Linked DNA regions of Homo sapiens: region 1 is linked to region 2. The links come from fine-mapping of genetic effects on gene expression. A gene starts in region 2. The other region holds a variant in brackets. All regions are shown on one strand. Distances are between the middles of the regions.

Region 1 (4,383 bases), 150 kb after region 2:
CTGAGGCAGGAGAATCGCTTGAAGCCGGGAGGCGGAGGTTGCAGTGAGCCGAGATCTTGCCATTGTACTTCAGCCTGGGCAACAAGAGTGAAACTTTGTCTCAAAAAATAAAAAAAGAAAAGAAAAGAATTAGGCTGGGCACAGTGGCTCATGATTGTAACCCCAGCACTTTGAGAGGCCAACGCAGGAGGATTGCTCAAGCCCAGGAATTCAAGACCAGCCTGGGCAACATAGTGAGACCTTGTCTCTACACATAATAAAAAAATTAGCCAGGCGTGGTGTTGTGTGCCTGTGGTCAGGGCTACTCAGGAGGCTGAGGTGGGAGGATGGCTTGAGCCTGGGCAGTTGAGGCTGCAGTGATGGCTGCACTGCACTTCAACCTGGGGACAGAGTGATACCCTATCTCAAGAAAAGAAATAGTTACTTATTTCATTCTGATCACATTTTCCAGTACAAATACATGGAGGTCCCAAGTGCCAAAGTTACAAAAAAAAAAAACAGTTTCTGTTCAGTTTTGGAAGACATGTAGGGACTTTTTCTTTAAACACTTTGGACCAAGTTGGGGAGTTAGCCTGCATTGAGGGAGGTGACCCAGTTGCTAAGAGACTGGGAGGCCAGCCAGGGATGAAAACTTTGCCTGTATAATCTGTGGTCACCACTGGGTGCCTGGGAGTTACCCACGGTGGACAAAGGGCAAGAGCGCTGGTTTTGGAGTCAGATAGATGTGCTCTGCCCTCCCGCCTCCAGGGCTGGGCTCCCAGGTTGGCTGTGGATCCAGAGAGTTGTGAGGGAGAGGTAAAATGTGTGTGAAAGTTCTTGGTAAACACCCAGCCACTATATATTATGAGTGGTAGCACCTAATCTCCTTAATGATATTTCAGGTGCCATATTGGGTCATCCTCACTAAAGACCCTTCAAGAGGGTTTTCCTCCAATAGCCCCAGTATTAACATTGGTCTGGCCTTATTATTTGTATCTAATGGGGTTAGACTTTCCCTTCCATGCTGAGAAAAAGTTGTCTTTAAGAGAATGTGCTGAACAATCAGGGCCCAGAAAGGCAACAACGAATATTTTGCATGCCAAGAAGGAGGCAAAAGAGGAAGTGGAATTGTACCCAAATAATGCTTATAATAGGTGTTATTTAGCTGAGCTGTAAGCTCCAGGAGGGCAGGGTATTAATATATTGAGGTGTTGGCTGAGCACTGTGGCTCACTCCTATAATCTCAACACTTTGGGAGGCCAAGGTGGGAGGATGACTTGAGACCAGGAGTTCGAGACCAGCCTGGGCAACATAGCAAGACCTCGTCTCTACACATAATTTAAAAAAATAGGCATGGTAGCGTGCGCCTGTGATTCCCAACTACTCAAGAGGCTGAAGAAGGATCACCGGAGACTGGGAGGTCAAGGCTGCAGTGAGCTGTGTTTGCACCACTGCACTCCAGCCTGGGGGACAGAGCATGACCCTGTCTCAAAAAAAAAAAAAAAAAAAAAAAATCCTGTGGTGTTACCATTGGTATGAATTCCCTGGGCTGTTAGTTCTGCGAGGGCAGTGGTTTAAATGGCTCTGTCACTGAGGAAGCTGCAGCGCCTGGCACATAGGAGGCCTAAAGTAAATATTCTTGGACTGTCCCAGGGCCTAAGGGCCCTTGGAAGTCACTGGTGAATTTACTCTCTCCTTTGACATTTGGAGAAACAGGGCCAAGAGGGGAGGGGACTTGTCCAAGGTCACACAGGGATTGAGTGGCTGAGTCAGGACGAGAATCCCACAGAAACGGCAGAGCCAGCACTGTGCCAGAGCCAACACCTGGCATCCATGGCTTTGTTTTGCTTCCACAAGAGCCCAAGAGGCAGCTATTTTAATCCTCTGATTCCAAAAGGAAACAAGCTCAGAGAGGTTGAGGGACTGTTGCAGAGTCACACAGCAGGTGAATTCCAGACCCGAAATTTCATCCTCACATAAAAATGAGGCCTGTGGCGTCTCTTGAAACAGCCTGCCGGAGAGCCTGCAGAGATTAGTGGAGGATGTCCACCACCAGGGCAGCAGTCTTCTCCAGTTCTCCAGGCTCACTACCTGGCTGGCTTCCCTCCAGGCTGGATCTTCCTAGGCCCTGTGGGCATTTGTGTGGGTGAGCCCGTTGGGGCAGGGAGCCTGTCTGCTTCATTTTCTGTGTGCCCCAGCACACAGAATGCCTGGGTAGCGTTGAGGCTGGCATATAGTATAAGCACTGAGTGAAATCTGTGAGATGGGGGTAACCCAGGGCTCTCCCTCTCCATAAGCCCATTTTCCACCACCTCCCTGCAGCCTGGTCTGTTTTGCCCCACGGGTGTTATGGGAACCTTTGACAGTGTGTATCCTTGGAGAGCAGGCTGGGGCTTGCAAGCCTTCGTTAAGGAGAGAGGTGAGGAGGGCTGACCTTGAGTTGAGGAATATGAATTGGGAGGGGTGAGGAAGTGGAGGGGAGGGGAAGGGAGGAAGGAGCGGCTCAGGCTGACAGAGGCACTCCCACTGGAGCCCTGGAGATCGCACTTCAGAGGTTCAGCCAACCCAGAAGACTCCCAAACCTTCTGCAAGACATGTCCAGGCCAGACCATATGCCATTTGGATCACCTGCTAATTTGGTTCACCCTCTTGTGCCCTCGTGCTCTCCAGGG[C/T]TTCTGAGCTGCTGGAGTTGAGGCCCCTTCCCCTGGGACTGTCACTGCTTAGCCACATCTCTTGGGCCTGTGGGTAAGCACCAATTTACAGGGCTCTGTGAATTCAAAACAGTTACTCTGAATGGTCTTTGCTAAGAACAATTTAATGATTAAGTAAGGTCAGTGTCCTTGGAAGTCCAAACTCTAGCCAGATTTCCCTGGTCTACACCCCTAGGGATAAGGTAAATGTTTAAGCACACAGTGAACTTCCTGAGGCCCCCAAATCTAATGGAACTAGCTATTGAGGGCTAAAAGAGGATGGTTTTTTTAGAAAACTCGAAGCAAATCTCTCAGGCTGGGGATATTTCAAAGACTACTACTATTATTATTAATAACAATTGCAATATTTGTTGAGTCCCTAAATGAAGCTAAAACTTTGTTCTAATAAATTTAATCTTTACAGCAACCTATGAGGTAGATAATATTGTCATTCCCATGAGGGAGCTAAGGATCAGAGAAGGTAAGTCACTTGTCTAAGGTCACATAGCTAGCATGTTATGCAATCAGGAGTCAAACCTGGTTTGTCTGAATCTGAAGTCCATCTGCTCTGTGCACTTTTATACCGTCTGCTTTTTCCTTTATTCCTAACCTTCTTCCATTCTGATTCCCACTGAGTAGTGGACAGGAACCACTGAAGTTTGCCTGACACCATCAACCAGGCCCTAGTCACCTGGCTTTGCCTTTGCCCTGCTGTGTGATCTTAGGTAAGTCAAACTTTTCAGCTGGCCCTCGGTTTCCCCGTAAGTCTCATGCAGAGGTGAATGGTGAGCTGCTTGCTGCAGCAGAGGCCTGGCTAGGAAGGCACACAGTTTAGCATGGATTTCACCACTATGGGAGTGGTGAAGTTGGGGAGGAGAGGTGTGGGAGGTTGTCTTTAGCCCCACCCTCTGGTGACATCACACAAGACACCCCCAGTCCCTGGAAGCCCCGCCCCTAGTGCCCCTCATCTGTGGAAGTGCTCAGCATCTGGTGAATTTGCCCAGTCCCATAGTAGAGGTCACCAGCCCCCAGGCTTGAGAGAAACCCCCAGGTACCCAGTGCAATTTGCCAGACTTGGAGGGGCCCATGGAGGTGGGCTGGGCTGAGCTGCCTGAATAGACAGGGCCCAGCAGCCTGGTGGGCACACGACTCAGAGGCTGACCACTCAGAGGATGCCCTGATGGTGCCCTCCGGATATCCATCCTCATCCTGCTGGCTCAGGCTTGACCCCTGCCCCTGCTTTTTCCTTTCCCCTGGATCAGAGTCCCTTTCCATGGAGTCAGGAGGTGGAAACTAATTCTGAAAACAGACCTACTTAGGTGGAGTGAGGCCTCTAGCTGAGGTCTAAAGAAAATAGGGCAGCGGGGTCTCTGTCATCCTAGCATGGTGCCTCAGGTTTTGTCCATAGGGCCCATTATATCTGGGGGAGGGAGGTATAAGCGAGCGCTGTCACTCACCTAAGGAGGTGGCTTGAGCCAGGGCCTCCCTGGAGAAGATCAGGTGCAAGCAGGTAGCCAGCAACTGAGGGAGACTGAATTGCTAGAAGCCTAAGAAAGTAATTTATAAGAAAGAGCCTGGTTGCCTGCTTTAGACCAGGATTTTGCAAAGTTGTTCTGTAGGATGCAGACAAGTGTGCCTGGAGCAGGGCAGCAGTAGTGTCTGCAAGCATCTACAGCCCAGTCCTGGCTCCACCTCCCTCCCCCATCCTCCAACC
Region 2 (4,375 bases):
GGCTGTTTCTTTGAGAGGTTAATCCCCAAAATTAGACACGGGAGCAGCTTCCAGCTGTGACTGTGAGGCCCTTCTGAGGCATTTGATGAGGTTGATCATAAACTTTTACTTAAAACTCAGAATTCTCATACTGAAGGCTTTGGAGATAGGCAATTCTGGATCAAAATACTGGCTCTTTCCGGCTGGGTGGCCTGAGAAAAATTACTTAACCTGTCTGAGCTTTCGTGCCTGGTACACAAACACTTAAATGCTAACAACTAGCATATTTTATTATAATCATTATTTATATAAGTGCTTAGCACAGAGTAAGCACTATACAACTGTATGTGGGGAAAAAAAATATTAGGGTAGGAGGTTTGGAATGAGTCGTGTTTTATGTTTTGAAAGATCCCCAGGGGAGAATTCCAAAACCTACCTTAGACAACCCTTGCTTCAAGTCCCCATCTTAATGGAAGTGCTCTCTGCCATCTAACCTGGCTCCCTCCTGCTGCTGCAGCTGAGGCCTAAGTCTACCAGGACTACCTGGTTCTCCCATCTCAGTCCTGCCTTCTACCCTCGTTTTTGGGCTTGCGTCTATTCCAGCCCCCTCCCATCCAGCCCCCAAGGCAAAAGGTTCACTTACTGCCCAGGTCCAGGGTCTTGCTCACAGCGCCCATCCCAGGGGCAGGCAGAGGAGCCAGTGTCTGCTGTGCGCCACCCACCCCTCTCCTCTTCCAGGGCTAGCAGGGCTACCCCGGGCTGGGGGCTGTGTTGCCGCAGCTGGCCAGGAGCCCCACCTCGCAACGGGTGGGCTTCAGGGAGAAAAGGGAGGGCCACATCAAAGCCGGGCCGGAAGGAGTCCACCGTGGGGCTGGCCTCAGCCACCATAGCCTGTCCCAGCTGGAAGGTCCTGGGGCAGGGAGCCGGGTGGAGACGGAGGACCAGATGGTTCCTGCCCCTGTTCCATTGCAGAGGCATTGAGCTGCACTCTCCAGTCTGGGCGTCCAGGCTGAGGAGGAGGAGGAGGCAGGCCCCAGCAGGGCTGAATGTGTAGAAGCGAGAGCCCTCAATGGAAGCCAGGATCCTGCGATGAGTCTCAGAGATGGTTCCAACCGCTGGGTACACGAATACCTTAAGGCCATCGCCCCTGCACTTTGAGGTATCAAAGCAAGATTCCCAGTTGCAGCTGCCACCATGAGGGGCTTGAGGAGGTGAAACGGCATCTTCTGGGAGCTCTCCAGGCTGGGAGAAGCTCTGCAGGAGCTCTGCATCCAGCCAGCGGGGCCAGCCTTGGGAAGCCCCGGGCCGAGGTCTGGGAGGCAATGCCAGGCGGAGAAGGGAGAAGCCTCCCAGCAGGACAAGCAGGAGCCAGGAGGCTGACAGTGCCAGCCACAGGGACTTTCTTCTCCTCCACGACTGCATGTGGCCACCCACAGTCAGGGCTAGGGAAGCTGGGAGGCCTCTGCCAGCAAGCAGGAAGAGCAGGGCCTGGGGCGGGAGACCAGAGCTGGGACCGACCTGCTAGTCCTGTGCTGTCATTGTACAGATGGGAAGACTGAGGCCCATCGAGACCAGGCCGCCTGTCTAAGGTCAGATAGTGAGTCACCAGCCAGGCAGGAGGAGGCCAGGTGGGACCCAGCTTGCTGGCCTGGCCCCCCTGCTCTCAGGACTCTGCCTTCTCGGCCTTTGGACAACCAAGCCAGCCTTTTCCCTCCCAGCAGGGACCCCTGCCCCTGGGCACTGCTCTGGCTGACGCAACCCCTGTCCAGAATGCAGGGCCGTGTCCCCCTGCCCTCCTGGCTGCACCCCTTGACCTTGCCCTCAACTGAGAGGAGGGCTGTCTGCCAGGCCATGGGGACCAGTCAGAGCTCCCACAGGAGGCGGCTTGGCCAGGGACAGGCTGGAGGGAGCTGGGCTGGTCTTCCCACTCCTCCCCTTGCCTGAGCAGCCCTGGCTGCCCCTGTGCCCGCTGGCAGACGCTTCTGGGCTGTGGCCCCTGTGGCTGGAGCTAAAATTAGACCCTGCATCCCATGTGGATCATCGGCGTCAGCTGAGGTCACAGCCTGGGTGCAGCCGGTGTCCCCCTGCCTTGGAGGGCCAGGAGGGCTCGGGGTCCTGATCCTTATCCACTCTGCCGCTGCACCAGCTCAGGAAGTGCAGCCCCTCTTCCCCGCAGCCCAGCAGCTGCCTTGCACCATCTGGCTTGGAGCTATCACAGTGCAGAGGCCAGGGCCGCTGTGCCAAGCCCCCCAAACCCTATGGTATCTCCTCCCATCCCTCTCCAGTCGGCAACTGGCCCATCCTGATCTCTTTCCTTAGCAGCAGCCTGGCTCCTCCCCTCCCAGCCCTGATTCGCTCCTGGCTGGGAGGCAGGGTCTCCATTTAACCCCTTCCAAACCAGTTTCCTCAATTGCTAATCCAACCAGCAAGTACTGCAACTCACAGCTGGCCATGAGTTATCACAGCCTCTGTCTCTCAGTCCTCCAGCCACCCTCCAAGGCAGAGATTTACCTGTCATTTCTTACAGATGAGGAAAGCTCAGAGAGGGGATGAACTCTTCCTAAGGTGACCCAGCTAAGAAGTGGCAGGGTGGGGATTTCAATCCTGAGCTCCTGGTCGTTGGTCACCCCAGCTGTGGGCCCTGTGGCTGGAGAAAAACTAGACCCTGCACCTGCTGTGGGCCATCAGAGTCAGTGGAGGTCAGAGCCTGAGTGTGAGGAATCTCTGAATCGGCACATGAGAAGGTCAACAGGTGAGACAAGTGAGGAGTTAAGGGGCGGGGGTGGAGGAATTGGGTAAGGTGCCCCCAACTGTCCCCAGGATTGGTCTCTCCTCCTTCAGCAGCCCCACCCCCAATCTCCTCCAATTCCCAGCCTTTTGCTCCAGTCCTTATGGAAAGTTCTTCCTGCACTTGACTCTTCCATAGTCCAGGCCCCATGGAGGGATTTCCCCGGTCAGTGCCCTGTGAGGGGAGTCAGGAGTGGGTGATGTCAGCCACTGAGGAATCTCTGGGGTGACGGGGGAGACACACTCTGGCCATGAGGAGTTCTGGGCTGATGAGGGAAGGCACAGGGAGTGGACAGACTTGAGTGGGTTCTGCCTCTTCCCCTGACTGCCTCGGGGGTGTTGGGCCTCTGTCCCCTTATCTCTGGGATGGGCATAATGTCAGCCAGGAATGGGTTGCCAGGTTGACGCAGGCCTGTCCCCTGAGGTCCCTCAACAAGTGGTGGCCTCCTTTCCCCTGCGTGCCTCCCCTTGATCTTGGAGGGCTGCTGATCAGACCAGGGAGCCACCGTGGGATGTTTTGCCCTCAGTGAGCAGCCAGTGTGAGAGTCCTAAAAATGGCCCACAAAGGGGACACTTGCCTCTTGGCACTAATGGCTCAGCCACTCGGTGATGAACTGCAGTTCCTGCATAACTCAGTCCTCCCACACTGAGAGGCATCCACAAAGGCCACTGGCTGCTTCGCACGCCCCCCCTTTCACTGTGCCCAGCCAACTCCTCATCCTGCAGGAGTCAGCTGAAAGCTCCCTCCCCACAAGAAGCTTCTCCAATGCTCCGCAGGCTGGGTTAGAGCCCCCGTCTAGGTCCTCATGTCATTCCTTCATCCCTCTATCCCCATACACAGTCATCCATTCATCTAACAAACACTTATGAGTGTTGAATATGGGCCAGGTTCTGAGCTAGGCCAGGAACACAACCCTGAGTAAGAGTAATCATAGCTGACACTCGTATTGCACTTACAGCGTGCCAAGCATCCCTCTTTTGTATCAGCTTGTTTCATCCTTTCCCCAACCCTAGGAGGGAGAAACTGTGATGATCCACATTTTACAGTTGGGAAAACTGAGGCCGAGGGAGCTTAAGTAATTTGCCTGAATTCTCACGGCTTAGCCAGGACTTGGACCCAGGTAGTGTGCTCCTATATCCGCTGCACCATTCCAGCTCCCAACAGGGAGGGAGACAGACGCGTCCCCACCCTCCAGAGCTCGCTGTCCTGGAGAAGACAATTATAGAACTAGGCAATTGCAGGCAATTACAGAATGAGGGGAGGGGACCCTGAGAGTACACAGAGGGGCTGCCTAGCCCAGGGGGCCAGAGAAGGCTTCCGAGGAAGTGATACCTACCCTAAGACCTGAAAGACAGCAATGTGGTTTTTAGAAAAATCGCTGTGGCTGTCTGTGTGGGATCAGACAGGAAATGGCAGGACTGGAGGCAGGGACAGCTTTTTGACTGGTCTGTCACCCCACAAGTCTCTCATTCATTCAACAGCTATTTACTGAACCCCTATTGTGGGGCCAGGCAGGTCTTAAGGGCAGTGAGCAAAGCAGAAAAAATCTTGCCCTCCTGGAACTTACCCTCCAGGGAGGGGAAATAGGCAAGAAACAAAATGAATAAA

The links. PIP is the estimated chance that this variant, and not a neighbour inherited with it, causes the effect.
Region 1: its variant is the best candidate, but not a certain one, in a credible set for the expression of EXTL1 in cerebellar hemisphere (GTEx, PIP 0.90).

The regions. Positions count from the first base shown.
Region 1 is chr1:25,869,620-25,874,002 of GRCh38, reverse strand. PAQR7 (progestin and adipoQ receptor family member 7) reads left to right here. Exons shown (of 3, transcript NM_178422.6): 2 at 3,309-3,394. Among named protein-coding and RNA genes, the nearest start is that of PAQR7, 3.9 kb to the left of the region's middle. RefSeq lists enhancers at 1,166-1,255, 3,786-4,287. The variant C/T (reference allele first, on the strand shown) is at 2,652.
Region 2 is chr1:26,019,673-26,024,047 of GRCh38, reverse strand. It overlaps EXTL1 (exostosin like glycosyltransferase 1), which reads right to left and starts at 2,273. Exons shown (of 11, transcript NM_004455.3): 1 at 623-2,273. The coding sequence starts at 1,401.